2 linked regions of the Homo sapiens genome follow. The protein of the gene in region 1 purifies or fractionates together with the protein of each later gene. This does not show direct contact. Each region holds a gene or a part of one and is shown in the gene's direction. Other genes may lie near its edges.

Region 1 (3,500 bases):
TGTTGACCCTGTAGACCTGTGAGAGGGTCTCAGGGACTCCAAGTCCACAGCCACACTTAGACAATCACTAGCTAATTCAAATCAAAGCATAATTATGTTTTCAAGGATTTTGATGTATACTGACAAATTTAAAAAAATTGTACTAGTCCTTTTACTAGCAGAGCGTGAGAGTCTCTGTCTCTGCAACTTTTCCAGTATTGAGAAGAGTCATTATTTAATCTTTAATATGTTCGATCAAGAATGACATCTTGTAGTTAGCATTTTAAAAATTATTATAGGTTGTACCTTTTTCCAAATTTTTTTGACCACTTAATTTTCCTTTGAATTACCTGTTTGGTATCCTTTGCCTAATTTTCTGTTGGCATGTCTGTTGTTATTGTTTATTGATTTATTACTTATTGATCTGCATATGTTCAGGATGCTGGTCCTATATATGTCATATTTGTTGCATAAATTTTCTCAGTTGTTTGATTTTAAATATTGTTCTGCTTTTGATATGGTTAACTTTTAAATGTATGCTTTTTTTTTCTGACATTTTTGCCTTTATACTTAGGAAGTTCTTTTCTGTCCTAATATATGAAAGAAAAAAATATTTCACCTAAATTTTCTTTTAGATTCTTTATGGCTTTGTTTTTTATTCTTAATTTTTAAATCTTTCTGGCTGAAATTTATTTTAGTAAATGCTGAGAGGTGAAGATGTAGCTTAATTTTTTCTCCAGCTTAATTTTTCCTCTTACTGTGACTTCTGGGGTAGCCTCACTTCTTCATGGCTTGTTTTGACTGAAGTTACAAAATTATGTTTTTTCAAGTCACTGTGTTTTACGTGGTCTCAGAATCCTTCACTTTAAAATGAAGGAGTAGGACTTTGTGATCTGTAATATCTTACAACTCCAAAATTCACCCTCATTCTATTTTCGTTTCTACAGTTTTACCATACAGTAAGTCATCATTTAATGTCTTCGGTAGGGCTTTGGAGACTGCAACTTTAAGTGAAACAATGTATAATGAGAGCAATTTTACCATATGCTAATTGTTATAAACAAGAATTAAGTTCCTATAGCATATTTCTGGTCATAATAACATCACCAAACTTCTAAATAAAGACCCAAGGCTGGGCACTGTGGCTCAAGCCTGTAATCCCGGCACTTTGGGAGGCTGAGGCGGGCAGATCACGAGGTCAGGAGATCGAGACCATCCTGGCTAACACAGTGAAACCCCGTCTCTACTAAAAATACAGAAAATTAGCTGGGCACGGTGGCGGGCGCCTGTAGTCCCAGCTACTCAGGAGACTGAGGCAGGAGAATGGCATGAACCTGGGAGGCAGAGCTTGCAGTGAGCTGAGATGGCGCCACTGCACTCCAGCCTGGGTGACAGAGCAACACTCCGTCTCAAAAAAACCATAAAAAATAAAATAAAGACCCAAAACACATCTAATATTAAACATTGAAATTAATGTGAGCCTAAACAAGTAAGATAATTATTTACCCAATTTTTGGTGAATCAGTGAGTGATGGTGGTCATAGTGGTGGTGGATTAAATCTAAGAGTATGTGTTTGCAAAGTGAAATTTGTGAGAAGCACCTCTTACCACCATGTATTCAAAAGCAAACAATAGCCTGTTCAACAGAGCGAGACCCTGTCTCTTCAAAAAAATTTAAAAATTAGCCAGGTGTGGTGGTACATGCTTGTAGTTCCAGCAACTCAGGATGCTAAGGTGAGAAGATTGCTTAAGCCTGGGAGTTTGAGGCTGCAGTGAGTTAGGAACGTGCCACTGCAGTCCAGCCTGAGCCACAACAGTTAGACTCTGTCTCTAAAAACAAAAAACAAAAAGCAAACAATAACAAATGTGGTGAGCTTGCTGAGCACTTGTGTACTGCATCTTTATTGTCATGCGTTTGTATGATTATCATAGATTTATGAATTTTTATTTTACAGTAATTTGTATTCATTCATTTATTCACTTATTCATTCATTTATTTACCAACCCGCTTATTCCAGTTTAGGATTCTGAGTGGCCTCTGGCAGCTCAGGCTGCAAGGTATGAAGCCATCCCAGCACGGGACACGCTCACACACACTCCCATACTCACTCACACTGGGGCTATTTAGACATGCCAGTTCTGCAGACACGTACATCATTGAGATGTGGAAGGAAACCAGAGTACTGGGAGAAAGTTCACGCAGACGTCAGGAGAACATGCAAACTCCACACAGACAGTGGCCCCAGCCAGGAAACAATTTTTAAAAATACTCATCAACTTTATAACAAAATAATGTTGAACAAAATAACGTTATTTGAAGACTTTCTGTAATGGGCCCTTTGGCACCTGAAACATAGGACATACTACATTTGAAGTACTTGCTGAGGACATATTTATTGATTGACATTTTTTAATCTTTCTTGTGGACATTCTTAGAAGCCCCTGGTCCAATCAGCTGTTACTTATAAGGTTATATTTTACATTATAATTTCCTGCCCAAACACTACATATATATTTGATTATTTGTTACTTTTGGGAGAGTTTTTGGGATAATTTTAAGCTTGCAGAAAAGTTGCAGAAATATTACAGAGAATTCTCATATACCCTTCACCCAGCTTCTCTTAATGTTAACATTACCATGGTACGATTGTCAAAATCAGTAAGTTAATTTTAATGCAATATCATTAATCTACAGACACATTTTTTGAACTTTGCTAGTTTTTTCACTGATGTCCCTTTTCTAGGATCACACGTTGGATTTAATTGTAATGTCTTAAGTCATTTCCAATCTGTGACAGTTTCTTACTATTTCTTTGTCTTTTATGATTTTGACACTTTTGAAGAGTACTGGTCAATTTTATAGAATGTCCTTTCCTTTGTGTTTGATGTTTATTTTCTCATGGTTAGATTGAGGGTAAACACTTTTGGCAAGAGTACCCTGGAAGTGATGGTGTGGCCTACTTAGTGCATTACATCAGGGTCTGTGACTTCATATGTCTTATTATTGGAGACGTTAACCTTATTCACTTGATTAAGGTGGTGTCTGCCTTGGTTTGTGCTCAGGAGCTGGTAGTTCTAATGTTACTTTTATTATTATTATTATTTTTAAATTCTGAAGCTCTTTAATAGCTTTATAATCAACAAATAAAACTAAAGGTGTTTTATAATAGGAAAATAATTTTGTGATATATGACAATGGCATTGCTTCATAAGGACAAGAAGAAAAATTGGAAGTGTACAGTAGAACTAGTATGTTTTACTATAGAGTCTTACATATGTATTACTTGAGAGTGGAAATATAACCATAACTTGCTAACCTGTACTGTGACTCACAAAACAGGCTCTACCTGACCAAACTACAATTACTGACTAAACCTGAACTCTTTTATCATGAGCTCATTCAGCCTTATGTGCTCAACCCATACTCATAAACTCTGTTCCAGAAACTGCCTAGTTGACAAAGTCTGACCAACATCTAGCAGGACCACCTCATGACTAGTTCCGGCTCCTAGAACCTTCGA
Region 2 (3,500 bases), about 28 Mb from region 1:
AGGCCACTTTGAATCCTGCTATTGAGATAATAATTTGAAACCTGGAGTTTTAGAAGGCTGTTTCAGCTTCTCTGAACTTAAGCTGATTGGTTGAGTCCCCTCTGAGATTGTCTCCTCTAGTTCAAGTCTTAGCCCCCTGTCCTGAAGTTGCATTTTCCCCAGTTCTGCTTGTTTTTCTCTTTCATTCTTAACCATAAGACTTTTCCTTCCCAATAGTAGGAGGAATCTATACTATTTGTACTAGAGATAGACCCTGTTAGAGAGTTTTTAAAGCTTTTGCTAGATCATGTTCTGCGTCTCTGATAATGTAAGAAAAAGCAAGGAGAAATGGGGGTATAAGTAAAGTTGTGCTAGAGCTTGCATCTGTGATATGCCAGGACCTGTATTGATTGAGGAAGGGTTGCCAGCTGACAGTGGTAGTAGAAATAGGTCTCTTAGGAGTGGGAAATTAACTCTAGAGGACTCCTAGTTAAGACTTACCATGGAATCTCTGGGCAATTGGAAATACTGTACTTTCCCCTAGGGAGATGGAGTGGGAATTGATTTTTCCTTAGGTCCAATGTAACTTGGTTAGAAATACAATTGAACCTGTTTGTCATGTCTGTTGTGATATGATAGCCCCATAGGAAGGGTCTGTTTTTGTGTGGGAGTTTATTTCAGGCGTCTCTTGCCTGTATTGTTTCTTTTAACAGCTTTTTAAATTTTCTTTTTCCAGCAATGATGTTGTCCACTGGGCATGTACTGACCAATGTGGCAGGTCTGAGAACATAGCTGAAGCTGAAAATAGGAAAGCTGGGGGCAAGGAAGAGCCTTGAATCTTGAGGTGGGACGTTGACTCTAAGATGTCCTTGAGCAGTGGAGCCTCCGGAGGGAAAGGAGTGGATGCAAACCCGGTTGAGACATACGACAGTGGGGATGAATGGGACATTGGAGTAGGGAATCTCATCATTGACCTGGACGCCGATCTGGAAAAGGACCAGCAGAAACTGGAAATGTCAGGCTCAAAGGAGGTGGGGATACCGGCTCCCAATGCTGTGGCCACACTACCAGACAACATCAAGTTTGTGACCCCAGTGCCAGGTCCTCAAGGGAAGGAAGGCAAATCAAAATCCAAAAGGAGTAAGAGTGGCAAAGACACTAGCAAACCCACTCCAGGGACTTCCCTGTTCACTCCAAGTGAGGGGGCAGCTAGCAAGAAAGAGGTGCAGGGGCGCTCAGGAGATGGTGCCAATGCTGGAGGCCTGGTTGCTGCTATTGCTCCCAAGGGCTCAGAGAAGGCGGCTAAGGCATCCCGCAGTGTAGCCGGTTCCAAAAAGGAGAAGGAGAACAGCTCATCTAAGAGCAAGAAGGAGAGAAGCGAAGGAGTGGGGACTTGTTCAGAAAAGGATCCTGGGGTCCTCCAGCCAGTTCCCTTGGGAGGACGGGGTGGTCAGTATGATGGAAGTGCAGGGGTGGATACAGGAGCTGTGGAGCCACTTGGGAGTATAGCTATTGAGCCTGGGGCAGCGCTCAATCCTTTGGGAACTAAACCGGAGCCAGAGGAAGGGGAGAATGAGTGTCGCCTGCTAAAGAAAGTCAAGTCTGAAAAGGTAAGAGGTGGCCAGATATGGCTGCCCACTGACTGCCAGTCAGAACTGCCCTGGACTAACTGCCAAATACTATGTGTACTCTGTGGGAGGCTCATTAGTGTGTGGGTAATGACCAATTACAAGGTCAGAGCAGCTGGTAATGATAATGTGGTTTTCTTCCAAATTAGAGGATTCCCCTACAGACTCATTTACAGCAGGCCTGGACATTGTGGAACAGGATATTTGTTGTTGGGGGCAGCTACTTTGTAGAATGAACTTTCTGTAGTCTGAGTTGAGACCTTCCCACCTTGTCTTTGCCCACCTCAGACACTTGTTGGTAGAGATTGGCATCAGACCTTTATTTGTTTCCCAGCTTGACTGGCATTTCATCATCAGACTCATAATAGTTGATAAACAATACGCCTTTGGTGATAATGTAGATTGAGTACGGTTCTTGATGGGATAAATGGTGCTGTTGGGTCTCTGGTAGAACAAAGGGCTAAATTTCATGGCATATCTACGAAGTGTTCTATTGCCGGCTACCAAAGAGCGAAGGGGCACATTTTGAGGGCAAGAGGTACTCATTGTACTTTGAGGTACTTAGATCTTATGAGTTATTGTTGTGGTTATGACAGTTTGGCCTAGGAAGAGATTGGCCATTAAAGGTGTAGCTTCATGCCAGGTATCTCCCACAACTATTAGGAATCAAAGTCTCCTCGTGGTTTAATAGCTGCCAACAGTGTAATGATACCTTGCCTTCTGCTTGACTTGGAAGGACAGGTGCCTGCAGCCCCAGGAGGGGTTAGAACTGAGTCCCTCCTCTGGGAAGATGATCTTAGTTCATGCTTTAGGAAATGGAACTTGCAGGGCTGGAGGAGAATGGGTGTGAGTCTAGGGTCAGCTCAGGCAGCATTAAACTTCAGCAGCTTATTCCTGCAAAACAGTGGCCTTGTGGTGAGCTGTTCATTGGCTCTTGATTTTCTGCTCTGTGCTCTGCTCATCCTGTGCTTTCAGCTGATCCCAGCAGATGCAGTATAAATTGATTTCTCTGTAATTAGATCAGCTGCAGCAGGGAATACCTATTTCCATATGTAAGTGTTAATAAATAAAGGCTGGATGTGTATGTTTGGGTGGTGGTGCCCTCTTAGTGCCTGTATTCCAGTGGTAGCTCATGCTTTCTTTGCTGTCGGTATTTTGGTCTTTGCCTCTGGCACATCTGTAGCTCTTAGCAACATCTGGGCTTCTCCAGTAGCAGGTCTGTGAGTTTCTTCCACTAATAATACAGTGGCTCATTCCCTTTTACCAGTGGCAGCTGCCAGAGAGGCTGCCTGTGTTTAGGTGGCAGATGCTATAGTCCACTTCAGCAGAGTCAGGTTCCAGCTGGTTACTAGCTTGGCTCATCCTGTGCTGGCTGTGATTTGCTATTTTCTCTCGGGTACAGATGGATAATACTGTTTTAAAGAGGCTTAGGAGTACTAGCAGTTGTTGCTTCTGTTCCAGGCCCATTAGACTGTTCCCTACATCTGGCTTCAAGAAACTCTTGCCATATATCCATATTCATAATCATTATTCTTCCTGTGCTAAAAAGTACTTCTGAGGATGACCTTCATTCTCCTATCTAAATTTTAGAGTACTTATGTTGCAACCTTCTAAGCCCAGTGATAGTCTGTGGATGAAAGGATTAATATTGCTTAGCTTTATGTTGGATTTAAGTGTAAATGTCCATGATTGTCTCTAACAGAGAAGCAAATGGAACCCATTTTCTCACATAGAGGTGCAGGGACTGATTGGGTGGCTGCCCTTCAGATTATAATTGGGCTGAAAGATGCAGTATGTTCAGCTAAGAATACATCCTGGTGCCAGGGAGTTTTGTCCCTTAATAATGTTGCTTTGCCATATAAGCTTTGCCTCCCAGGGAGACTCTGAGAATGG

Evidence for each region.
Region 2: the proteins of CDIN1 (region 1) and ZNF609 purify together in Homo sapiens (affinity purification with mass spectrometry; one large-scale study listed by BioGRID and IntAct). This does not show direct contact.

The regions. Positions count from the first base shown.
Region 1 is NC_000015.10:36,582,626-36,586,125, forward strand, and holds part of CDIN1 (CDAN1-interacting nuclease 1), read left to right. Parts: intron 1-3,500. UniProt on the Homo sapiens protein: Plays a role in erythroid cell differentiation.
Region 2 is NC_000015.10:64,498,578-64,502,077, forward strand, and holds part of ZNF609 (zinc finger protein 609), read left to right. Parts: intron 1-715; 5' UTR 716-842; coding exon 843-1,589; intron 1,590-3,500. UniProt on the Homo sapiens protein: Transcription factor, which activates RAG1, and possibly RAG2, transcription. Through the regulation of RAG1/2 expression, may regulate thymocyte maturation.